7 linked regions of the Homo sapiens genome follow. The protein of the gene in region 1 purifies or fractionates together with the protein of each later gene. This does not show direct contact. Each region holds a gene or a part of one and is shown in the gene's direction. Other genes may lie near its edges.

Evidence for each region.
Region 2: the proteins of SV2B (region 1) and NETO2 purify together in Homo sapiens (affinity purification with mass spectrometry; one large-scale study listed by BioGRID and IntAct). This does not show direct contact.
Region 3: the proteins of SV2B (region 1) and SLCO1C1 purify together in Homo sapiens (affinity purification with mass spectrometry; one large-scale study listed by BioGRID and IntAct). This does not show direct contact.
Region 4: the proteins of SV2B (region 1) and DNAJC1 purify together in Homo sapiens (affinity purification with mass spectrometry; one large-scale study listed by BioGRID and IntAct). This does not show direct contact.
Region 5: the proteins of SV2B (region 1) and TTC13 purify together in Homo sapiens (affinity purification with mass spectrometry; one large-scale study listed by BioGRID and IntAct). This does not show direct contact.
Region 6: the proteins of SV2B (region 1) and RAB39A purify together in Homo sapiens (affinity purification with mass spectrometry; one large-scale study listed by BioGRID and IntAct). This does not show direct contact.
Region 7: the proteins of SV2B (region 1) and TTK purify together in Homo sapiens (affinity purification with mass spectrometry; one large-scale study listed by BioGRID and IntAct). This does not show direct contact.

Annotation. Positions count from the first base shown.
Region 1 is NC_000015.10:91,099,086-91,103,056, forward strand, and holds the start of SV2B (synaptic vesicle glycoprotein 2B), read left to right. Parts: upstream 1-1,171; 5' UTR 1,172-1,278; intron 1,279-1,865; exon of another isoform or gene 1,866-1,991; coding exon of another isoform or gene 1,992-2,013; intron 2,014-2,710; exon of another isoform or gene 2,711-3,235; intron 3,236-3,971.
Region 2 is NC_000016.10:47,137,446-47,140,945, reverse strand, and holds part of NETO2 (neuropilin and tolloid-like protein 2 isoform 1 precursor), read left to right. Parts: intron 1-3,500. UniProt on the Homo sapiens protein: Accessory subunit of neuronal kainate-sensitive glutamate receptors, GRIK2 and GRIK3.
Region 3 is NC_000012.12:20,747,332-20,750,608, forward strand, and holds part of SLCO1C1 (solute carrier organic anion transporter family member 1C1), read left to right. Parts: intron 1-3,277. UniProt on the Homo sapiens protein: Mediates the Na(+)-independent high affinity transport of organic anions such as the thyroid hormones L-thyroxine (T4), L-thyroxine sulfate (T4S), and 3,3',5'-triiodo-L-thyronine (reverse T3, rT3) at the plasma membrane.
Region 4 is NC_000010.11:21,997,231-22,000,730, reverse strand, and holds part of DNAJC1 (dnaJ homolog subfamily C member 1 precursor), read left to right. Parts: intron 1-3,500. UniProt on the Homo sapiens protein: May modulate protein synthesis.
Region 5 is NC_000001.11:230,930,362-230,933,861, reverse strand, and holds part of TTC13 (tetratricopeptide repeat protein 13 isoform a precursor), read left to right. Parts: coding exon 1-83; intron 84-1,984; coding exon 1,985-2,126; intron 2,127-2,389; coding exon 2,390-2,564; intron 2,565-3,500.
Region 6 is NC_000011.10:107,934,948-107,938,447, forward strand, and holds part of RAB39A (ras-related protein Rab-39A), read left to right. Parts: intron 1-3,500. UniProt on the Homo sapiens protein: The small GTPases Rab are key regulators of intracellular membrane trafficking, from the formation of transport vesicles to their fusion with membranes.
Region 7 is NC_000006.12:80,035,649-80,039,148, forward strand, and holds part of TTK (dual specificity protein kinase TTK), read left to right. Parts: intron 1-826; coding exon 827-951; intron 952-2,318; coding exon 2,319-2,399; intron 2,400-3,500.

The DNA of each region.
Region 1 (3,971 bases):
TCAAAAAAAAAAAAAAAAAAATGTTTCGGATTTTTCAAGGACACTGGGAAGCCATCACATGGTTTTAGGTAGGAAAGAGTCAAGATCAGATTTACATGTTGAGAAATGACTCCAGGAGCCTGAGAAGTTGAAGTCCTTGCGGGTGGTCCAGGTGCGAGTCGGCGGAGGCCCCAGCCAGGGAAGAGGCAGGGAGCTGGAGCGCAGGTCATTGACGGCAGCGAGAGTGGGGAGTCCAGCTGAAGACCTCATGATGGAGGATGTGCTCCATGGAGAAGAGGGGGAAGGCTCTTCCAGAACTGGCCTTCATTTTAGCCCTGTTAGGAAAGGAACGTAGCTTCGGATCCTAGAGGGGCCAGGCACCTGCAGTGTTGTGCTGTTTGAGTCCGCATCCGAATTTCCAGTGTCCTTTCCTTGCTCCTTACTTGCTCCTAGAAGGAGCCCTATGCTCCTAAAGAGTCTTTCGGTGCTGAGCCTTGGCAGTTTAGTTTGCTGAACTCTCGTCAGTGGAGTTAGTGGGTGGTGGTTTGGAAGGAGGGAGACAGAGGTGGAGGGCTTGTTTGAATGCACCAAGCCTTGCAGGCTTTCCTCCTCCCCGCGCTGGCCGGGTAGGTTCTCTTCAGTTCCTGATGAGGCAAACGAGAACAAAGCAGTCGAACAGCACCATGATCGACGATACTTTGGGGGCGGCGTGATCAGAGGATTCCCCTTCCCGGGAACTTGCGTCTAGTCCTCTGACGCATCCTAGTTCGGAGTGGGTGGAAGGGCATGTGGAGTCCACAGCGCCCCCTCGCCCTAGGCGGGGTGGAGACAGCGAGACGACGCCCATGATCAGCTGGTTACAAAACTCGAGGAATAAGAAGTTTAATATTTATTGGTCTGCAAATCCGGAGACCTTGCGGCCTCACTGGTCCTCCTTCCCTCTGAGCTATCTCCACACCCAGCCTTCGATCAGAAGGAGATTTAGAAGCAGAGCTGCCCGCAGCGAATACTTTTAATGCCCGGGCCGGGAAGAAAGCGGGTTAGGATCTGATCCCGCTGAGTAGAGGACCCAGGAGCCTCCCGCCCCGCGTGCTCTGTAGCGCGGGGGCGCGCTGCGCGCTGCGCCTGGGCGGCTGGCGGGGGCGGCGTGGGCGCGGTGATGCAGGTGTGACACCCGCCGGCGCCTGCCTCCGCCCGGATCGCCCAGCTCCGCGTTAGCCGGAGCTGCACGCGGGGCTGCCGGGGCGGACGCTGCTCTGCCTGCATCCGGAGGCGGCCGCCAGCGGATTTGCCACCCAGGTAGGGGACTGCGTTGCTCGCTGCGGTGCAACCGACCCAGCCGGGGCGCGGACCCCGCGTGCGCCAGGGCTCCCAGACTCGCCTGCCTGGGCTGAAATATACACGCTCGCACAGCTGAGTGCTGTTCATAGTAAATGGCACAAAAGATCGGAGAGTCTTGAAAAACCGGCGCAGAAAAGCAAGGACTTGCCCGCTGCCTGGAGCTGTGCGCTTCTTTGAAAGCGGCCTCCCCAAGGGCTGTTTTAAAACCCTGTTTGAACTATTAGCGCCATAAGTAGTTTTGCAACTTATAAATGTCAGGCTGCTGGCATTTATAGCTCCGTTTCCATAAGCTTCCTAGCCGCTGCTTTTAGTTTCAGTTACATTCTAGTAGATAGATTTTGTTATTGTTGTTGGCTTGTTCTTAAAGAACAGAATTCAAACGTGCTTACACCTGGTGGCTCTTGGGGTTTGTGAGTGTGTATTTCTGTATGTGCAGGGCGCCCTCCGTGGGCGTGGGAGCCGTTTCTTAGGGACACAGAAGGATTTGTTTATGGACGGGTTTTAGCGCAAGGGAAAGAAAATGACTTGTTTTGCAGGGATGGGCTAGCAAATGCGTTTAGCCAGGGAGGAGCAAGGCACCGCTGTGTCTTCGGCAGACGGGTGGTAGAAATCTCTGCTGTCCAGGGTTCAGCAGGGCTGATGAAATACACTCCTTTATCCGGAAATTACAGATGCAAATTACTCCGTTTAAGGGTAACTTAACGTTGGTGTCTTGGGCTCTGATAAGAGCAGCCCCAGTGGGGTGGGGTGGGACGCTGGGGGAATGCTTGCTGGCTTTCTAGCCCTTGGGGAGGTGAATGTGGGTGGCTTTGGGGCTCAGAGAGTGGCAGGTGAGGGGTAAGGAGGGTGCATGAGGGAGGACTGGGCACTGTAGTCGGCTCAGCGGTGGTTCTGGTCTATGCTGGTCTCCTCTGTGTTTCTGCTTCCTGCCCTTTCCAGAAGAGGTGACTTGTTCTGCTTGTTCCAGTTGGTGCAGTAGGTACAGGCTCGTTCTGCATCTTTCTTGAGTCAGCAAATACTTACTGAGCACTTAGTATTTGTCAGAGATGGGATTAGTCCTTGGGGATGCAGAGATGATGATAACAATGTCCTGGCTCCCTGAGGTTCACACCTGGTAGGGGGAGAAGCACTCGTAATCAGGAGGTGGATAAGTTCATGATGGTGTTGGAAAAGAGCAGTGAGAGCAGAGAGGAGGAGGAAATTGATAGTGGCAGTGATTAGTATAAAAATGAAGCCCTCATGGATTAGGCATGGCGTGGATTTCAGCAGGGACTGGGTCGCTCTCTTGGTTCTTCGGTCCGGGAGTGACCCACATGACTCTCCCACACCATTGCCATCACTGCCACTGGGTGGGCAGAGCTTTACAAGTCTCGGCTGGGCTGGTATTTGCAGTATGTGACTAGACCCCAGTAGACACAGGCTGACACCCAGAGAGGAGCACACACAATACAAGTCAGACTTTAATTTTTTCCTTTTTTAATGAATGCTTTTCCTGAATTCCAGGACTATGAAGGTTTTGAAGCAACACTTCACAAAGGCAGGGACTCTGGAAAATTCTGAGGGAGTTTCAGAGCAGATGAACTTCTGTCTGCTTCTCCCTGGGTCCCCGACCTATCTGTTCTTGTCCCAGCCCAGTTCAAAAGGAAAACTCTCCCTTGATTTTCCCTAAATGGGTGGAATAAGGGAAAACTAAAGCTGTTACTACCAGTCTTTTCTGGGAGATGAAAATCCAATCTCAAGGATGTTTCTTCCTGGACCAAAGCTGTGATGGGTGACGAAAAATGATAGAATGAAAAGCTCTTGTGTTATGTATTTGCCAGAGATGTGTGTTACATGCGCCTACATCATCATTAAGGTATTTGAAAAGCAGCGTGCACTACAAGAAGCATGAGCGTGGATGCTCAAACAGACCTAGGTGAGTGTCTTGGGCAAGTTACTCAGCCCCTCTTTGAGCATTAGTTTCCTGATCTGTAAAATGGAGACAGTAATAGGATTCTTATAATAATTAAAGAAAAGATACTTTAAAATATTTACTCATTGTTACCCGATCATCATATATAACTTGCCTGGCACAAAGTAGGTGCTCAAGAAATGGCAGTTCATTCATTAAGTTCCTACTATGTGTCAGCCATTGCTCTATGTGTGGAGAATACAGACAAAAACAACCAAAAAAGCCCTCTCTCAAGGAGCTTAAATTAATGAGAGAGTGTGTGTATGTGTGTGTGTGTAAGATGATGGACAAATAAATAAGTATAGAGTGTATCAGCTAATGAGACACTGTAATGGAGAAAAATAAAGCTGGCTGAGAGGACTGGGGAGTGCTGCCAGAGGGCAGGGTGGGGCTTGTTATTTATTTTTATACAGCTTGGCCAGGGAAGGCTTTTTGGTAAATGACATTTGACCAGACATCTGGGGAAGTGAGGGAGGAAGCCAGGGATTCTGGTAAATGACATTTTACCAGACATCTGGGGAAGTGAGGGAGGAAGCCAGAGGTTGCAGGCAGCACCTGCAAAACCCTGAGATAGGAGAGAGGTGTGTTCCCAAGAGACCCAGAAAGGAGGCCACGGAAGCTGCTGTTGAGTCAGACACCCGGGACAGCAGTAGGACCTGAGGTCATAGGGGCAACACGGCAGGTATTTGAGATATTGCCT
Region 2 (3,500 bases), on another chromosome or scaffold:
TTATAAATCCATTTTTTGTTCTTATTCTGCACACTTGCTTCAGGAGAATCTGTTCGACTCAGCAATATTTCAAGCTGTAGAAACTGGTTAAATTTGTAATGTAACAGCAAAAATATTCCTTGGCACTGTATTTAAAAATCTTGTCTGAGACGGTGCAAGTATTAACTCGTTTTTCATTCTTACATTTCACCCAGGACTATAAACTAGTTATACAGAAATAAGTGTGGTACTGAAAAACTTGTCCTTTAATACTAAAGCCTTATTAAAAATCAACTTTTTGGCTTTTCCTTCCAGGGGTTGGGAAAAACTGTTTTAACACTGTCAATTGAAAAGTCTTATTAAATAATGGTTTTTTTGTAGTAAATCCTCAACTGCAATCTGGTTTATCTTTCATTTTGAAATTAAAATCACTATTTAGGAAAAACCCTGCATGACAAAACAAGTTGAAATCAAAGCCATTTTCAGTCCTTTTTAGAAAAGATAGAAAAATGATAGACTAGAAATAAAGTTCATATCTGAAATTTTAAAACAATAGACTACCTCCTTCTCTTGGGGTACCACCCATCCAGCACAATCTCCTATCATTTTTCAACTTACGCTCCTGTAGAATAATTATTTATACTTAGAAATACGTCTCCCTGAGGCACTGGAGATTGAAATTATTATGATCTTTGAGTTGGAAAGGAGCATCTTAAGAGGTGGTCTAATCCAATGGTTTCCAAACTTCAGAGGAACTTTTGTGAGGAAGCACTTGAAAAAAAAAGGAAAAAGGACAACAGAACAGAGTTGCTGTGATTGGTGGGAGGCCTTGCCCTCTCAGTCACCTCAAACACCAGGGTGGCTCCAAGAACTGACACTTCAACGGGTTTGTTATATTGCTTCCAAAATTACAGGGTATACTAATCTGAAAGTTCAGTCCTTTCTAATCAAAATGACATTAAGACATGTTGGTTTAAATATGCCTGGAGTAACATTGGAAATTACAGCACTAGAAGATACCAAGTAGTCTTTCAAATATGACCTGATCATGTTAGAAGGTGATGGTAGTCACTGTACAGTCAGGAGGACTGATGTGTAATTAAAATACAGCTTACAAAAGCGCCATCTCAGATCAGCTCGACTAAGGAGGAGTTTGTCACATTCTGCAGGAAAGAGAAAGCACTTCTGCTATAGAGTTACTCTTTCTTACTAAAGTGATTGGCATGTCATTAGCATATGTAGGCTGGAGTGATCCCAAAGTTCACCATCCATCTTTGTTCTTAACTAGTAAAGTATGATTGAGTTTGATTAAATTTGGGTACTTTTTTTGTTCTTTGGAACATAGTTTATCAAAAACAAGTGACTGCCATGTCAAATAGTATGTGGACTCTAATTGAACTCTGTTCTGCTGTCATTATAGGAAATGGTAATGAGCAGAGAGACCAGGTAGGTGGTTCTCTGTGTTGGATTTTAAAAGCTTTATGTTTACCACTGAGTTGCTTAACACAGGAAGATGTAGAAAGAGACACACTTAATTACTAACAAAGGTAAATTGAGCCAGCTTGAGGAAAATAACAGTGGTGGCAGGGTATCTCAGGAGGGTGGGGGGGAATCTCAGTTCTTTTCCCATCCCCTGATTTGTGCTCGCATTTAAAAAAGCAAGGTCACATGTGTGGCTACTGTTTGTTCATCCAAGATGTGTGCCTGTCAGTTACTGTGCTATGTGTTTGCGGTTACAAAGAAGATGCACTGGAGTCGCGCTCAGTCACCCCCATGTGTTCATCGTGTCTGTATTGAATACTGTTGAGGCCAGACAGTCTTTTAGGCTGTGGAGATGCATCAGTGAATCAGACAGACAAGGCCCTTCTTTCTAGTGAGAAGAGACAGACAACCAACAAGACTCAAAATACCAGGTAATATAATAATGAAGTAAAGCAAAATGAAGGAGAAAATGTAGCGCTTATTTAGAAATTGGGAAAGCCTCACAAGACCTGAACAACAGGAAGGAATCAGCCAAAGAGATTCTAGGCCGAAGGCACAGCTGGTTCCTGAGGCAAGAATTAGCTTGATGTGTTTTGAGTGATGGGAAGGCGGCCTGTGTTCTAGTAGAGAGCGCTCGGAAGGCCAGAGAGACACGCAGGCTCCAGGTCACATAGTACCTCCGAAGTCAGAGTAAGGGGCACAGAGTTGTTCTAACTATAATGGGACTCTACTGGAAGATTTTAAGCAAGGCTGTGATGTGATCTGATTTGTATTTTGAAAAGGTCACTGGCTGCTGTGTACATAATACACTATAGGGACTGTGGCAGAAACTTCCAGTTGTCTAGAAATGTCCATTTAACTATTTGTCAGTAATTCTCTGAATTTAACTGAGCGCACAGTTCCCCAAAATGAAGACTATTTACCAGTTTCCTGTTGGTTTAGGTGACCATGTGACTAAGTCTAGCCAGTTAGATATAAGTAGAAAATGATGTGTGCAACTTAGGGGAATTGTTGTTTTTGTTGTTTAAACTTTTATTTTGAAATCATTGTAGATTATGGGCAAGTGTTTTTGTTTTGTTTTGTTTGAGATGGAGTCTTGCTCTGTCACCCAGGCTGGAGTGCAGTGGCACGATCTTGGCGCACCACAACCTCTGCCTCCCAGGTTCAAGCGATTCTCCTGCCTCAGCCTCCCCAGTAGCTGGGACTACAGGCGTGTGCCACCATGCCCGGCTAATTTTTGTATTTTTATTAGAGACGGGGTTTCACCATATTGTTCAGGCTGGTCTTGAACTTCTGACCTCATGACCCGCCCACCTCAGCCTCGCAAAGTGCTGGGATTACAGGCGTGAGTCACCGCGCCTGGCCCTGGGCAAGTGTTTTTAAAGAAAGAGAGAATGCCCTTTATCAAGTCATCATTCTTGATAACTAGAATGCAGACATGGGAGCTATAATGAAGATAGAATAGCTGGCACTCCAGCCTCATACTGGACCATAGGGTGACCTTGGAAATGAGCCTCTCACAGCTGGGTAGTGAGACAGAAGGAACCCAGGTCCTGGTATTTATAGAGCCTTCACTCTGATGCTTGACTCCCTATGTCCAGCTTGTTCGCATGACAGAGCAATGTATTTCTATCTTGTTTTAAACTGTTAGTTTAGGTATTTCTGTTACTCATGCCAAACCTAATGCTAACATAGAAGTGTGCAAAATCAGTATAAGAACAAAAAAATTAAAAAACAGATGGAGAGCTGTTGAATGATCAGAAGTGAAAAGTCTGAATGCAGTCAAGTAAAATTAATCTGGAAAGGGTTCCTGGAGAAAGCAGGTTTTAGAAAATGTACTTTCATGGAAGCAAAGAGGTCCAAGGTCCCTGGCAAGTGCAGATGTTCAGAAACAAGAAGTATTTGTTGGAGCCCTTATAAGAATAGATAGTAGAGCCTTCACCTCAAGTTCAACGTTTCCAAAATCGACTCAACTCCTTTTCGCCCACCCCTGCCCTGCCCAATCCATATTGGTCCAAACATGTCTCCTGCCACTACCA
Region 3 (3,277 bases), on another chromosome or scaffold:
GTCACAAGAATTGCTTGAACCCAGGAGGCAGAGGTTGCAGTGAGCCAAGATTGTGCCACTGCACTCCAGCTTGGGTGACAGAGGGAGACTCTGTCTCAAAAAAAAATAGAGTTCAGAATGGGGAGAGAGATGAAACAGCAATGGCAAAACATTAATAATTGTCAAAGCTATGATGGTACATGAGGGTTAATTATATCATTCTGTCTGCTTTTGTGAATTTTTGAAAATGTTCTATTATAATAATCTTAAACCACGTACAGAAAATTGCAAACATTTGAATTTTTTTGGCTTGTCTTCACATCATTAAAGGTAATGTAAAATTGGTTATCACCTGGATTTTTTAAGTGGTAAATCATATATTTGTTTGGTTTTTGAGGCACCAAATAATCCAAATTTAATTCAAAATTTTCTGCTCTTCTTGTTCTTGGGGTTTCAAGCAAAATAGAGGGGATCATTTGTTATTTAAAAATGTAAACATATACAAAGATAGCAAGAACTGTCTTTGTATACAGCAAAGATAGCAATGAACTCCCATTTATCAATTACCCAATTTCAACAATTATCAATACACAGCTCATCTTAGGACATCTGTGTCCCTAACTACTTACCCAACTAGCTTATTTTGAAGTAAGTCTCAGACTACTGTATTTCTTCTATAACATGTTTGGTGTGCTCTTCTAATCAAAACCATAATGACTTGTTTTAATCTGGTGATTCTTGCATCTTAAAAAATAACTTCTTAATATTAGCAAATACCCAATTACTGCTTAAATTCTTTAAATTATCTGATGTTTCCTTACACATGTAGGTTTGAATTAAGAACCAAACAAGGTCCACAATTGCATTAGGTGATATATCTCTAAAATCTTTTTTAATCCATAGGCTTTACTTCCCTCTTTCTCTCCCATTTGTTGCGAAAATTTCAAATCTACCAAAAAATTTAAATTACAATGAATAACTGTATAACTTTTACTGGGATTTATCAACTGTGTCCAAAAACCAGAAATCTCTCTCCTCTGTTTCTCTGAGCATACAAATATTTTGCTGAATCATTTGAAAATAAGTAGTGAACATGCTGACACCTCACTCCCAAAGCCCTCAACTTGTGTTCTTCTACTAGAGCAAATCTATATATAGACTTGTCCTATATAACCACAATACCATTCTCACACTTCAGAAATTCAACATTGATATGCTACTCTATCTAATATAATCCCTCATTCAAATTTCTTTCATTATAACAATAGTGTCTTCTATAGTGTTTTATTTTTTCTTTTGATCCAAGGTCAAAGACCACATATTGCATTTAGTTACCTTTCTTTATCTCCAAAAATTCCTCATTCTTATTTTTTTGTTCTTTTGTGACATTTATATTTTTTTCAAGAGGCAAAGCCAGTTGTTTTGTAAAATATCCCAACTATTGGATGTGTTTGTTTGCTTGTGAGTATGTCCAGGTAAAATATTGTTGGTGGCAATACTACACACGTGATTTGCATGATGCTTAGTAAATCATATCAGGAAGCACATCATTTCAGTTTATACCTCATTGGAATTTTAATTTTGGTCCCTTGGTGAAGGTGGTGTCTACCAGTTTTCTCCATTGAAAAATCCTTCTGCAGTTAATAAGTCACCTATAATTTGACACTTCGAGATTATGTCACCATTCTGTTTCCCAAAAATCTTTCACCCAAAATTTTAGCAGCCATCGATGAGTCTGGATTGAATCAATTATTTACATGAGTATTTGCAAAGTTTAGGTAAACCTTTACATAGAAAATATTTTCAAATATTTTCATTTGTTTTCAAAGAACAAATGGATAATCTCTGAAATTTAGAAGTGTCATAAATATTCTTAGATGACTTTAAAAATTTAGTGAGATTATTTTGTTCAATATAAGCATACAAAGCAATTTTATAACAGAAGAAAACATATACAAAAAAGGTTAAAACTCAAATGCCGGAAACAACCAGACAGTTGATGGAAACGAGTGATGTAGGCAGAGAGAAAGCTGTATGGACTTGTGGTGGACTCCAAGTGTAGGCAGCGGTTGGGGGAGTGAGGCAGCTGCTGCTTAACTCCAGCCAACTATGACCATGGACTGCCAGACAACATGGTTCTTAAGAGAACTCAGAAGTGTGCAAGTTTATATGAAATCTCCTAGGTTTCAGCTATTGGCTACTAACTAAAAAACAAAATCCCAAAGTCTACACAGACTAAATAACCAATGTTAATGAACCACCAATTTAGAACATATAAAATATACACTGAGCTATGAACAACTGCTTAAGATACTTTCGTTAATATTTGCACATGAGAGACACATTTTCTCCCTAAGGAGGGATTAAATTCCTAACATTTTCTGAGAACCTACTAGGGTTTCTGGCATGAATAAGGAGGACATGTTTCCTACCGTGGTGAGCTTACAGTCTAGCAGAGAAGGCAATTCAACAAGCTATTACAGGAGTATTTAAAGTTTGATGAGATGTAAAACAATGAGAATTAATGCAGTTTAGTTTATCAAAATGAACTGAAGGAAAACGTTCAAACTTGGATTTTAAAAGTGAGTGTGTATTAAGAATGTGAATAAGAGAAAATCATTGCTTGGGATAAAGGAAACTACACAAGGCATTCAGACAAGAGGAGAGAACATTTTAGTCACTGAAAGAAATCCAAGAAAATTTGAGTCTGAAATGTAAGACAACAATCTTGCCCAAAGTGAGGCCACAAAAGTAGAAAGACCCAATGTTCAGTTAACTACTCTTCTTTTGGAACAGATGTCTTGGGAAGTCACCTACTTAATTCAGTGATGCAACCTCTGTATGATGTACAGATTTGAGAAGGTTAATGAATGAAGCCAAGGAATCATGAATTGGCTGTTGCTTTAAGTTAGGGTAGAAGGAGTGGCAGTGGGAATGGAAAGAAGAGAAAGTGTTTAAGATATACCTAATAGATAGACTCAGTATGATTCCGGGACAGATTAAATATAGTGATAGCCAGAGAGAGGAGAAAGAAGGATCAATGATAACTCACAAGTCTGCTTTAATGACTGGGCTTCCACTGATAAAGGGACAGGTCTATAGGGGAAGAAGTTGAGCTCATGTTGAGTTTGAAGTGCCTGAGTGACATGCTTCTGGAGATAAATAAATGGCAGTTACTGCATGATTCTGGAGCTTATGAGAAAAGACTGGATTAGAGAGATAGGTTTGGGAGATTTCAGCATGTAATTGATGGCCTTTCATCTCCAAAACAGTAATTAGATTAAAGTAAGTGGTTTCA
Region 4 (3,500 bases), on another chromosome or scaffold:
TCATCCATTAGGACTCCACCTTCGTGATATAATCACCTCACAGAGGCCCCACCTTGTATTACTGTCACAATGGGGATTAGATTTCAACATAAGAATTTCGAAGGACAAAAACATTCAGACCATAGCATGGTAGAAGGACATTCAAGGAAGAGCAGACAGTAAGCACAAAGGCCAGGAGGCAAGAGCTTGCTTAGCGTTTGAGGAATAGCAAGGCAGGCAGTGTGGCTGGAGCAGAGTGATCAAGGAAAACAGTAATGGGAGAACAGCAATAGGAGACAAGATCTGAGTCATAGGTGGTAAGGGAAGACCATGTAGGGCTTTGTAGGCCATTGTAAGGACTTCGGCTTTTACTTATAAGTAAGTTGGGGGAGGTGGTGTTTGAACAGAAAAGATACATGATTTGACTTGAATTTCAAAATGATCTCTTTAGTGTACTGAGTATAGTCTGTGAGGCATTAGTTACTTAGAGGGATAATTGTGGTATAGATTGGACCTGGGTGGTAGCAGTGGAGGTGGTGCAAAATGGTCAGATTCTGGATTGAATTTCAACATGGAGCAAACAGAATTTTACTGATGGCTTGAATGTGGTATGCGAGAGAAAAAGAGAAACTGAAGATAATTCTAAAGATTTTTGGCTTCAGTAACTGGAAGGATGCAATTGCCATTTGTTGAGATGGAGAAACCTGGACTAGGAGCCTGGTTTGGAGAACATCAGGAATTTGGTTTACGGACATGCTAAATTTGGGGTGTCTGTTAAACGTTGAAGTTGAGCTGGTATGTAGGCAATTGGTTATTCAGGTGTAGAGTTACAAGAAGAAAGTTTAGGGCTGTAGATAGGAATTTGGGAGTCCGAGGCACTTAGAGAGTAACTTGAAGCCACAAAACTGGATGAGTTCACCAAGGGAGTGAACGTAAAAGAGAAGAGAAGAGATCTGGGAGCTAATAAGCCTTGGGGATTCCAGACTTTAAGAGTCAAGGAGCCGGGTGTGGTGGCTCACGCCTGTAATCCCAGCACTTTGGGAGGCTGAGGCGGGTGGATCACGAGGTCAGGAGTTCAAGACCAGCCTGGCCAACATGGTAAAACCCCGTTTCTACTAAAAAGATAAAAATTAGCCAGGCGTGGTGGCAGGCGCCTGGAATCCCAGCTACTCGGGAGGCTGAGGTAGAGAACTGCTTGAACCCGGGAGGCGGAGGTTGCAGTGAGCCAAGATTGTGCCACTGCACTCCAGCCTGGGCGACAGAGCGAGACTCCGTCTCAAAAAAAAAAAAAAAAAAAAAAGAGTCAAGAAGATGGAGGGGAATCAACAAAGAAGATAGAGCAGGAACGACCAGTAAGGTAGGAGGCAAACCAATACAAGGTTCTCTTCAGTCAAGTGAAAAAAGTGTTTCAAAGACAAAGGGATCAGCTGGGTTAAATGATGATGATGATTCAAATAAGATGAGCTTTGAGACTTCACCGTTGGAATTAACCGTATGGCGGTCACAGGCTACCTCAGTAAGAACTGTTTTGGTGAAGTGGTGAGTTCAGTAGTCTGGGTAGATTGGGTTCAGGAGAGAATGAAAGGGAAGAATTGGAGACAATTAATATAGAACATTCTTTTGAGATATCCATATCCTAAACTAGAAGGCAGAGATGGTAGTGACTGTCTGTGGCATCTTCTTTATCCCCTTATCCACCAGGTATAAGATAACTCAGTTACTCTCTAAGCTCTATAATCTGAATAACAGATGACTTAGAACTTGGACCAGACCACCTTATGACCTTGGACAAGTTAGTTGCCTCATTTTTAGGACAGATGGTAGCTTTTTATTTTCTTCATAGTAAGGCACATAGTAAACACCTAAATATTTATTGAATCAAACATTATAAACATTGTAACTAAATGCAAACTGTAATTCCCCAAACAAGTAGTTGCTTGACAGTTTTTACTCAACAGATTTTACTTCTATGTAATCTTTCACAGCCTTCAGGCAGCAGAAGAATCTTCTTCCATGTATCCTTAGATTTCACGTCCATTCTAGAAGTCTAGAAAGGGGTTGCAGAAGTCTTTGTTGGGGGGTATATACAGATGATTTATTAGTCATTCATACCATGTTTAGAATGACTTTAATAATAGGGCACTCCAATTTGGATATTGCATCTTTTCAGAGGAGATGGGGGGAAGATGAGAGAGGAGTGTAGGAAAAAAGATGTGCTATTGAAAGATCTTTCGTTACCATCTTAAATTATAGGTTCCTGCACAGTATTTATATTTTGTGTAACAGCACCTGCTTCTCAGACACCTGTACTTCTTGTGGGGTCAGTGGCAATTCTGTATTTCTTTTTTTTTTTTTTTTTTTTGAGATGGAGTCTTGCTCTGTCGCCCAGGCTGGAGTGCAGTGGCGCGATCTTGGCTCATTGCAACCTCTGCCTCCTGGGTTCACGCGATTCTCCTGCCTCAGCCTCCCGAGTAGCTGGGATTACAGGCACCTGCCACCATGCCTGGCTAATTTTGTATTTTTAGTAGAGATGGGGTTTCGCCATGTTGGTCAGGCCGATCTTGCACTCCTGACCTCAGGTGATCCACCCACCTCGGCCTCCCAAAGTGTTGGGATTACAGGCGTGAACCACTGCGCCCAGCCTCTATATTTCTTTTAATTGTCTTTTGGGACCATGACTTTCCTTATCCTTTGTATACAGTAATTCTAGCCAACAGTAAACACTTCATATTCATTTAAAAAAATCTGTGAATTGAAATAATGACAAGCTAAATTATCTTAAATTTTGTAGTATTTACTTTATGCTGAAGTCAAGATTTGTCTTCATGGTGCCAGTCAGTCATTACAGACTTCTATTTATGTAGCTAGAAAATGTGCTTCATTCTCTTTCTCTCGTGTTTTATAACTAAATCCTTATATTCAAATGAATGCTGAAACTTGGTTAACAGAAGAAAAGCAGAAGAACAGGGATGTGCTTATAAAATATTTGGATTTTAATTTTTAGATAGGAATTAATAAACCTTTTAAGCTCATTCGGCCTGTATTTTCAAATGTACAGATTAGCTAGCCTGTTTAGAGGAGGGACAATTATTGCCCATTCATCCGTGCCCCATGGTTGGGAGGAACTTCCCTAAAAAAACACCACTGATCACTAGACCCATCTCTAACATCTTACCATGGCGGTGTGAGTTACCTTACTGGAGGGTGATTGCCTTTGCTCTGTTTTGCTTGATTAGGAAGAGCTGATCAGTCAGAAAGCTATGAGTAGTGGGAATCAGTCTCTTTGCACCTCTCTGCCCAGACCAGTAAGGCAATTATCCTAACCAGACTTACCCTTGAGCATACTGTCTCAAAGTCTAGAATGTAGAGGAGAGGGCACAAATTGCTAGCAAGCCCATTTGGCCATCACATTTAACCTGTATTCTTCAATAGCTGTATCAGTTATAAAGGTTCATCTCTTGTCTGCCCGACTCCTGTGTCCACTCAGTTTTTTGGATGGGAAAAACCAGTTAATGGGGCCT
Region 5 (3,500 bases), on another chromosome or scaffold:
GAAGCTATTGAATCCTTCAAAGAAGCTTTGAAGCAGAAAGTTGACTTTATTGATGCATATAAAAGTCTAGGGCAGGCATATAGGTGAGTAAAATAATAACAGTTGGGGTAGGAGGGAGGCTGAAGAGTGGGGAGACAAGATAGCTTCACATAATATTTAAAAGAAATAGTATTTCTTAACCAAAGGAGATGGGTATTTTGAATTGTGCAAGTATGTATAGACTTGTTGATATTTTCTCTGAAATGCAGAAAAATAAATTGTACCAGAGGATGTCATGATGCACAGTATTCTCTCTTAACTTCAGCGTGTGTATTGGTCTAGAAAACGTTCATCCTTCAAGGGTTGTTTTGAATAGTGGCATTGTAAGCTATTGGGGTGTAGACGCTGCTGCTACTTTCTTAGACAGTAACTAAGGTAAATTTCCTATGATCTCTTTGAAGAGTCCTAGAATGAAGGGATGGAAAAGTTGTGATTATAATGTACATCTGCTGAGAATGAGAAGTTGTAACTAGAACTTGGCTTCCTGACGCCATGCATTGCCCTGATGATTAGAGCCATTGTGACTTTTGGCTTAAAAAAAAAAAAAGTAAGCCGGGAGCGGTGGCTCATCCCTGTAATCCCAGCACTTTGGGAGGCTAAGGCAGGCAGATCACTTGAGGTCAGGGGTTAGAGACCAGCCTGGCCAACATGGTGAAACCCTGTGTCTACTAAAAATACAAAAGTTAGCTAGGCATGGTGGTGGGTTCCTGTAATCCCAACTACTTGGGAGGCTGAGGCTGGAGAATCGCTTGAACCCGGGAGTCAGAGGTTGCGGTGAGCCAAGATTGCACCACTGCACTCCAGCTTGGGCGACAGAGCGAGACTCTATCTCAAAACAGGAAAAAAAAAGTATATTGTGTTATGAAAAGGAGGTAGGATGGCATGAGTGAAGGAGCTCATGACTTAGTTCTGCCTTGGTCGTTCTGCAGGTATGAGTGCTTAACTTCCCTGAGCTTCTGGCTTCTCACTTGTAAAGGTGCTACAAAAGCTAGAAAAGAAAGACAGCGACGGAAAGTCCCTTTATTAGGTACCTTATTCAGGAAGGATTACATTCAAGAGCTTATTTATCTGATAGTTTGAGGAGCTCTTATACTAACTTGGAAGAAGTGTGTTTGGATTTGTTTGGGGTTTAAGGGATGATATTTGTGCTTCCTGTCTCACAGAATTATTGAATATAAATTGAAAACAGATTTGAAAGCACCTTGTAAAGTGCTGTATGAATGTAAGCAGGAATTATATTTTTAAAAAATGTTCACTATTTATAGAGAATTGGGTCCCGCTTTTCAGGAGGTCAAGTGGGAGCATCGCCTGAGCCCAGGAGGCTGATTTCAGCCTGAGCAATGCAGTGAGACCCGGTTTCTAAACCTATTTGAAAAGCAAATAAAAAGCAGATTGATCCATAACAACCATTTCCATCCTGGAATGGTTACAATTCTAAAATACACTTCTTTTTTCAGAATTCTAAATTATATAATGATTTACTAGATTTTAAGCAAAGCAACTTTGGTGACCAAAAAAAAAAAAAATGCATTTTTAAGGCTATGAATTTGATTGAGAATGATGAACTGTTTATGATTATAATTGGTATATTTTTTTCCAAATGGGAAAAGTGTGTTTCTATCCATATATTAACATTTACACAGTTTTTAGGGTTTGGGACTCATTGTGAATAATCAAGGAGAGGGGTTTGAATAAGCGTCTGCCTTTGGAAATCAGCAGATGAATTTTCCCCACAGAATTTCAAGAGCTCTGTGGTTATCCTATGAGCTGGTGAGATTTAGAAGTAAGTGAAATGTAATGTGTCAGAGGCTATAAAAAAGCAACAAAGGGAACACTCCCATCAAGGTATCTTGTTTACATATTGGTCCATAATTCTGAGGATAGCTTATTCTGTATGTTTCCCGTAATATCTATACTGTATTCATAACTATTATTAAATACCTAGAGAACTGGGCAATTTTGAAGCAGCCACTGAGAGCTTTCAAAAGGCACTGTTGCTCAACCAAAATCATGTGCAAACCCTCCAGCTCCGGGGAATGATGCTCTACCACCACGGCAGCTTACAGGAAGCCCTTAAGAACTTTAAGGTGAGCATCCATAAATAAGAACACTGTAATTGGAATTACTGGATTATTCTTCATTGAAGTTTAGTGAAATGAATAGAGAAGGGGGACTGAGAATAGTGTTTCTACTCCAACAAAAAGAAAGAGAAGAAATCATTGCTCTTGTCCTGTAGACTAGTTTACAGGTCTGGTTTAACCTGGAGGGAAAACTAATTCCAGAGTAAAGAATAAAGCATTTCAAAGTTTTCCTAAACTGTGTTGATACTAATGCAGCATTTTGTCCTCAGCGGTGTCTGCAGCTAGAGCCATATAATGAAGTGTGCCAGTATATGAAAGGGCTCAGCCATGTTGCCATGGGACAGTTTTATGAAGGGATAAAAGCACAAACAAAAGTTATGCTGAATGATCCTCTCCCAGGCCAGAAGGCTAGCCCTGAGTATCTTAAAGTAAAGTATCTCCGAGGTAAGTCAGAAAATCACAGAATTGTTGGATTTTCATGCTCAAAGCTGTAGAAATCATATTGCTTGACTCTTTTATGTTTCGTATGAAACAGTGGAGTCTGAAAGAGGCCAGGTGACTCATCCACAGCCACACCTTGTCAGTGCTAGTGTCGAGACTAGATGTTTCTATCTTCAAAAGATCAGTCAAATGCATTTTCTACCACTTTTAACATTTTTACTTTCTAAAGTTAAAACATTTTTTACTTAAGTTGAAAAGCCATATTTTGAACTAAATGTGACAAGCATCTGGAATATTTGTGTCTCATCACATCTCATCCAAGAATACAGGAAGGGCAGGAAACTGACATTCTGTGAGGTTCTTACTGTTTTTTTGTTTTGTTTTGAGATGGAGTCTTGCTCTGTCACCAGGCTGGAGTACAGTGGTGCAATCTCAGCTCACTGCAACCTCCGCCTCCTGGGTTCATCCCATTCTCCTGCCTCAGCCTCCCGAGTAGCTGGGACTACAAGGGCGCGCCATCATGCCCAGCTGATTTTTGTATTCTTAGTAGAGACAGGGTTTCACCATGTTGGCCAGGATGGTCTCGATCTCTTGACCTCGTGATCCACCTGCCTCGGCCTCCCAAAGTGCTGGGATTACAGGCGTGAGCCACCACGCCCAGCTGGTTCTTACTGTTAAATGTGAACTTGGTATCTTTGACTTGTCATTCCTTCATATCAAAATTCTCATATATTTTGGAGAAATATGAGGTGAGGAAGAAAGCAAATCTTGCAGTTACCCTTTTATTAGTTGTAGTTTTACTCACCTTTTATCTCCTGTCTCTGAAGACAGTTTTTTTAATTAAAGCCTACATTCTTTTTTGTTATTGTGAGCCCTTTATACCATGACTGTCCAAAATAAAAAAAAGGGGAAAGCTGTGTGTGTAATTTTAAATTTGTG
Region 6 (3,500 bases), on another chromosome or scaffold:
AAAATAGAGACAGCCTCCCTCCTCTCCCTTCCCCACAGAATCTGGGAGCAGCCCCTAACTATTACCACTAAATCTTCCCGGCCTTTGCCTGCCTCTCCATGTTTTTTCCCCTAGCTCCTCTTCTGCTATGCATCTTTCTCCTTGCCAGGTGTCTTACTGTTACAGGAAAGGGGTCCCGATCCAGACCCCAAGAGAGGGTTCTTGGATCTTGCACAAGAAAGAATTCAGGGCAAGTCTGCAGTGTAAAATGAAAGCAAGTTTATTAAGAAAGTAAAGTGGTGAAAGAACAGCTACTACACAGACAGAGTAGGACGTACCTGAAAGTAGCAGGAGGAACGCATCCGCCCTAGGTACAATGCTTGTATATATATGAGGAGATGTGCTCTCTGCCACAAGGGTTTGTGATAAAGGATTAATTTTCTTTCTTCTTCTTTTTTTTTTTTTGGAGACAGAGTCTGGCTCTGTCGCCTAGGCTGGAGTGCAGTGGTGCGATCTCGGCTCACTGCAAGCTCCACCTCCCGGGTTCACACCATTCTCCTGCCTCAGCCTCCCGAGTAGCTGGGACTACAGGCGCCTGCCACCATGCCCGGCTAATTTTTTGTATTTTCAGTAGGGACAAGGTTTCACTTTGTTAGCCAGGCTTGTCTCGAACTCCTGACCTCAGGTGATTCACCTGCCTCGGCCTCCCAAAGTGCTGGGATTACAGGTGTGAGCCACCGCGCCCAGCTAATAAAGGATTAATTTTCTTAATTACCACATTTTGCAAGAATCGATATTATTATCTTTAAAGCAAAATTAGGAATGCCTTTGTTCTCCAGATATTGGAATATCTGGACACTCCCAAGTCTGGGTCTGTTTAGTAAACATTATTAATTTGTTCCCTTAGCCATAAACATCTAGAGGCTAGGAATGCCCAACTTTCTGGGGAACGCAGCCCAGCAAGTCCTGGCCACTTTTTTTTTTTTTTTTTTTTTTTTTGAGACAGTTTTGCTCTGTCACCCAGGCTGGAGGGCAGTGGTGTCATCCTGGCTTACTGCAACCTCTCCCTCTTGGATTCAAGCAATTCTCCAGCCTCCCAAGTAGCTGGGATTACAGGTGTGTGCCACCATACTCAGCTAGTTTTTGTATTTTTAGTAGAGACAGGGTTTCAGCATGTTGGCCAGGCTGGTCTCGAATTCCTGACCTCAAGTGATCCGCCCACCTCGGCCTCCCAAAGTGGTGGCATTACAGGCGTGAGCCACTGCACCTGGCGTCATTTTCCTAGCCCTTGCTCAAAATGGAGTCACTCTGGTTCGAATGCCTCTGACATTAGTCCCCCTCCAGCTTATTTTTATTTTTTCTTTACCCCTTTCCTCTGTCTATCCATACTGATGTTTACTTTCATCCTCTTCCCCCCACCCCATTTTTATTTTAATGTGTCTCTTACTCTTCCATTTCCTTTTAGCTTATCTTCCCTTATCCCACTGGCTTATCTTCTCTTCTCCCACTGGCTACCGCATGTGTCTGTTTTCTCTTCTGCCTCTTCCAAACATCCATATAAAGTTAATGTTTCAAAGTGATTTAATTTATGTACTCTGTTCTTAATTTTAAAAGCAAGCAATATTAACATTTTAAATTTCTTCTTAAGAGACTTTTTAAAATCTCTAAACTAAATTAGTTATTTTTGGTTTTGTTTCTTTTTAAAAAGTCCCTCATTTGATTCTCAGCTCCCTCACTGTGGTTCATGGCCTTCAAAAGAAAACGATTTTTTGTTCCTTCAGTAGAAAATGATTGGTACCAGTCTGGCAAACATGGTGAAACCCCATCTCTACTAAAAATACAAAAACAAATTAGCTGTGCATGGTGGTGCACACCTATAATCCCAGCTACTTGGGAGGCTGAGGCAGGAAAATCCCTTGAACCCAGAAGGTGGAGGTTGCAAGGTTGCAGTGAGCCGAGATTGCGCCCCTGCTCTCCAGCCTGGGTGACAGAGCGAGACTCCCCCTCCAAAAAAAAAAAAACAAATGAAGAAAATGATTGGTGGGTCCATAATTGCATAGGTAACAGAGCAGAGATGACCATAATCACTGCAGTCTACTGTAGTTCCAAGTTATTGTTAATAGAAAGGTCAGCTATAGTTCTATTATCAGGTAATATAATGTCTTAGTTAAAAGTGTATTGTAAGTAGTAGAAATCTAGCCAAATTCATTTATTTATTTGTTTTTTAGAGACAGAGTTTTGCTGTGTAGCCCAGGTTGAAGTGCAGTGGCACAATCATAGCTCACTGCAGCCCAAACTCTTGGGCTCCAGTGATCCTCTTACCTTAGCCTCCTGAGTAGCTAGGACTACAAGCACATGCTATGGCACCCAGCTAATTAAAAAAAAAAAAAATTTGTAGAGACAGGGTCTCGCTGTATTGCCCAGGCTGGTTTTGAACTTCTTGCTTCAAGTGATCCTCCCTCCTTGGCCTCCCAAAGTGTTGGGATTACAGCCATGAGCCACTGCACCAGGCCCAAATTAGTTTAATAGGGAATAAATTATAAATGATACAGATTTCATGAAAGCAAAAGCTCACTGAACATCCAGGTGTTTGGAAGTATGGAATTATTACTATTTTTTTTTTTTTTGAGATGGAGTCTTGCTCTGTCGCCCAGGCTGGAGTGCAGTGGCGCAATCTCGGCTCACTGCAAGCTCCGCCTCCTGGGTTCAAGTGATTCTCCTGCCTCAGCCTCCCAAGTAGCTGGGATTACAGGCACCTGCCACCATGCCCAGCTAGGAAGTATGAAAAATTTTAAAACAAGAGTTTGTGGACTTCCCCTCTAGTCTATTTCCCTTCTCCAACTCTGTTGGCTCCTAGCTCTCAGTCTCTGAGCCTCTTATTCAAACTCTTGAAAGAAAAAATATCTCATTGACTACTTAACTATCCAGTGAATCAGCTCCCCTGCAGTCAGGTTATTGAGTTACACAGACATATAATACAAATGTATTATAACATAAATATACTAAGTAGGTATTATGGGTCAGATAATGTAAATGTATCTGTAAAGGTCCACTTTTTTGGAAAGAGAAATTCACAGAGAAGGGAAATGAGCAGTCACCCCCAAAGTGTCTATTTTATGGTGTTTGAGAGTAAAATGGTATATAAGAATGAGATGGCCAGGCATGGTGGCTCACGCCTGTAATCCCAGCACTTTGGGAGGCCGAGCCGGGCGGATCACCTGAGGTCAGGAGTTCGAGGCCAGCCTGGCCAACATGGTGAAACCCAGTCTCTACTAAAAATACAAAAATTAGCCGGTTATGGTGCACACCTGTAATCCCAGCTACTCGAGAGGCGGAGGCAGGAGAATTGCTTGAACCCAGGAAGAGGAGGTTGCAGTGAGCCGAGATCACGCCACTGCACTCCAGTCTGGGCAATAGAGCAAGACTCCGTCTCAAAAAAAAAAAAAAAAAAAAAGAATGAGACAGCATCGTTTCTAACAAGTGCACCAGAGTGCCAAAAGATGATCTGTGTAGCCAGACAT
Region 7 (3,500 bases), on another chromosome or scaffold:
TTTTTCTCAGTATTAACGTAGTCTGTCATCCTTATCTCCAAATACTTGGATTATAGCAGGTCTAAGACTTTGGGGTTCAGGCATCCTGAAAATATGAGATGTTTACTTTATTCATTCTCCTAATCATTTTGTATTGTATGCCCTGTGTGAGAAGTTGGTTTTTTTGTTTGTTTTTTACTGTTAGGCCTACCTTCTGGGTTGGTTTTTACTTGTCCTTGGTTCTTTTTAGGGTTTTTCTCTGCCTTTACCTTATCCTATATATTTTTTTGTTCTTAATAACTGTTATCCTAGTTAATTGTAATTTATCTCCTCCTCATCTCTCTCTCTTAAATTATCTTAAAAGATAATTCACCAGTGATCAAGATCAGGGCTATAGGGGTGGAGATGTCAGGAGCATTAGGGTCTTACTGTCTGGCAGTATAATTTGTGATGCTCTCTAGTGGGCAGTGAATCACAGTGGTTAAGAGGATAGATTCTGAAGCCAGACTGTCTGGCTTCAATTCTAACTGTCACTTAGGCTGTGTGACCTTGTACAAGTTACTTAAACTCTCATTGCCTTAGCTTCCTTGCCTTATAGTGGGGATGATGATAATACTTCAGCATTGATGTGAAGATTAAATGATGCAGTACTGTATAAACAATGAACTTAGAACAGTGCCTGGCACATAACAAGTGCTATGTAAATATTTGCAGAATATATAAAAAAATTATTGAATTGGGTTCACTAATTGAAGGAATAAATACAGCTTGACCTGTAGACTGTGAATTTTTTGGTCCTTAGAATGTTTTGCATTGTTTAATATTACAGTGGATTTTTATTTTAAAGGCATTGTTCACAGTGATCTTAAACCAGCTAACTTTCTGATAGTTGATGGAATGCTAAAGCTAATTGATTTTGGGATTGCAAACCAAATGCAACCAGATACAACAAGTGTTGTTAAAGATTCTCAGGTAAGACTTAATGTTGGTTCTCTCACAGTAGAGTTCAATTCTTTTTTTACCTGTGAAGTATTATATTGCAAATGAGTGTTATATTTTTAATCACCTCATTCTTCAAAGGATTTGAAGTCTTTTAATAAGAATAGATTTAAAAATATAAACCATGATCATTGTAATGTAGAATAGAAAGTCAAGATCAAATAGTAATATCTCCAGCAATTGTGAATGGTTTTCCTATAGCTGAAGTAGAGAAACAGTAATACCTTCCTTGGAAATCACTTGGTCGTGATCAAAAATTGACCTGAAAATTTGGCTCAGAGTTTCCTTGTAGCAAAGAGGGAGTTGCAGTTATATGTTTTTCACTGTCTATGAGGTAAGATCATTTTTATTCTTCTAGAGAAGCCGACCTTTTCCTATCACTGAAATTGGAAAAAAAATTCTTAAGTGGGCCTTCATATTGTAAATGCCATAAGTATTATAAGCAACATTTTTATAATAGATATTGCAACAGCAAACTAAAAGACGTTGTTCTATAAAAACTAAAGCAATGGCACCAAAGTATATCTAAAAGATATTCTTGCTTGGAACCAAGATGATATGTTCCATGTTTACAGATTTTTGATGTGAGTCCACCTTAATCCCAGGAGTAAAATAGACTTTGTTAGGAGGAATGATGGACGACATGCCCTATTTGACAGTCATGTCTCTTTGTATCAAAAGTATGGCAGATCAATGAGTTGTAAATCAGCTTGACAATATCTTCCATGTCAAGGCCCTAAAGTAGATATATTCTGTGTTTAAAGCAAACCATGTATTTTAGAAGAAAATGAGCTCATTGTAAGGTTGGCATATCCTACTGTAGAAACTCAGAGGACTACTGTGAGACAAAGCTAGATGGTATTTTTGTTTGTATATTGGTGGGCTTATTTAAAAAATATATTTTTTTAAAGTTGAGTATGTTACAACAAGAAACGAATGGTAAGTCCCTCAATGGCCTCAAAGTTTATGGCCATTAATAGGATTTTAGCCTGGAGAGTTTTTAGGGCAGGCTTTACTAGTTGCCCAGTATAATCATAGAAAAAGCACAGCATTCTGAAAGGAGTCACTTTGCTGATTATGAACCCAACTCGTTTTGCTGCAGTTGTGAAGAAATTTGATATATATATCTTAACGTTGTCAGCAGTTATTTGAAATTTGCAAGGATATCATTGAAATTTATAATTACCCAAGTTTCCAAGGATCTGGCATTTGTATTTTTAAGAATCTAAAACTTAAAGTATAATAATAATAATAATAATAATAATAATAATCTCAAAAAAAAATCTAAAGCAGAATTAAATATTTTCATTGATTTGTGTTTTCTCTGACTTGGCATATAGGTTGGCACAGTTAATTATATGCCACCAGAAGCAATCAAAGATATGTCTTCCTCCAGAGAGAATGGGAAATCTAAGTCAAAGGTACTGAAAAGATTATTTACATCACAATTATCTGGCAACAGTAGGGAATGCACTATTTTCTGAATAAACTTACCAGATAACAATTTCTTTAAGTTCTAAAACTTTTTAGGCCATTACAGAGACATTGCTGGTTTTTTTCGTTTCCAATTCTTACTATTTTTCACCACTTATTCGTTTGTGAATTCTACATTTCCAAGTACAGCTGGAGAATGTAATTGTTTTCTGGCCTGCCACTGGCTACTTTTCCACTGACTTTATCTCGCTACCTCGATGAGTTTGCGTTAGCCTCATGGGTGCCCTTTGTCCGGGGCTCCTTTTGCCTACCTTGATGCCTTGGGCTCCCAGGCTAACCCTTCTTTCTCTACATCAGTGTAACCAAGTGGGTGCAAGCACACATTGTCCCAGGGACCTGTATTCATTCAAGTCATAGATCTGCCTCTTCATTAACAACTGTCTTTGGCCAAGTGACTTGCCTAGTTTCCCTGTCTCTAAATTGTGCCTATAGACAGTGCCTATTGTAAAATAAATTGAGGATTAAATGGGAAAGAATATATAAAGTACTTAGTACATTTATCCAGCTCAGAATCATTGCTTGATAAATGTGTTTTTATTTACTAAATTTTATTTTCCTCCTTAGAAAATCTGGCTTGTAAGTGTTTTTCAAATAACTGGCATACAATTTTGCCAAATGTTTTCATAAAATTCTTTTTATATTTGTTTAGCCTCCACTCTTCTAAAACTTAAATTTCTTGTGTTTTTATTAGACTTTCTGTGGTTTTGTTCTTCTTAAATAAGCAGTTCCTGACTTCATTTATCAACTCTATTTTCATTTGCTTTACAACTTGAGTACTTGTGATAACCAGAAACTTTTCTCTATGATTAACCATATTTATGGTTTATCATTTAATGCCCATGACAATGTACTTTTATAATTTCTATATCAGAGTTGAGAAAACAGACACATAGCATTACCAGTTAGTAACACATCTTCAAGATATGTTAAAGGTAATATTAATTTCATATAACTAATTATTTACTTGAAATAGCTGAAATGATTGGAATTGTGTAATTGGCTTAGATATAACTATTCTATTTAAAAGA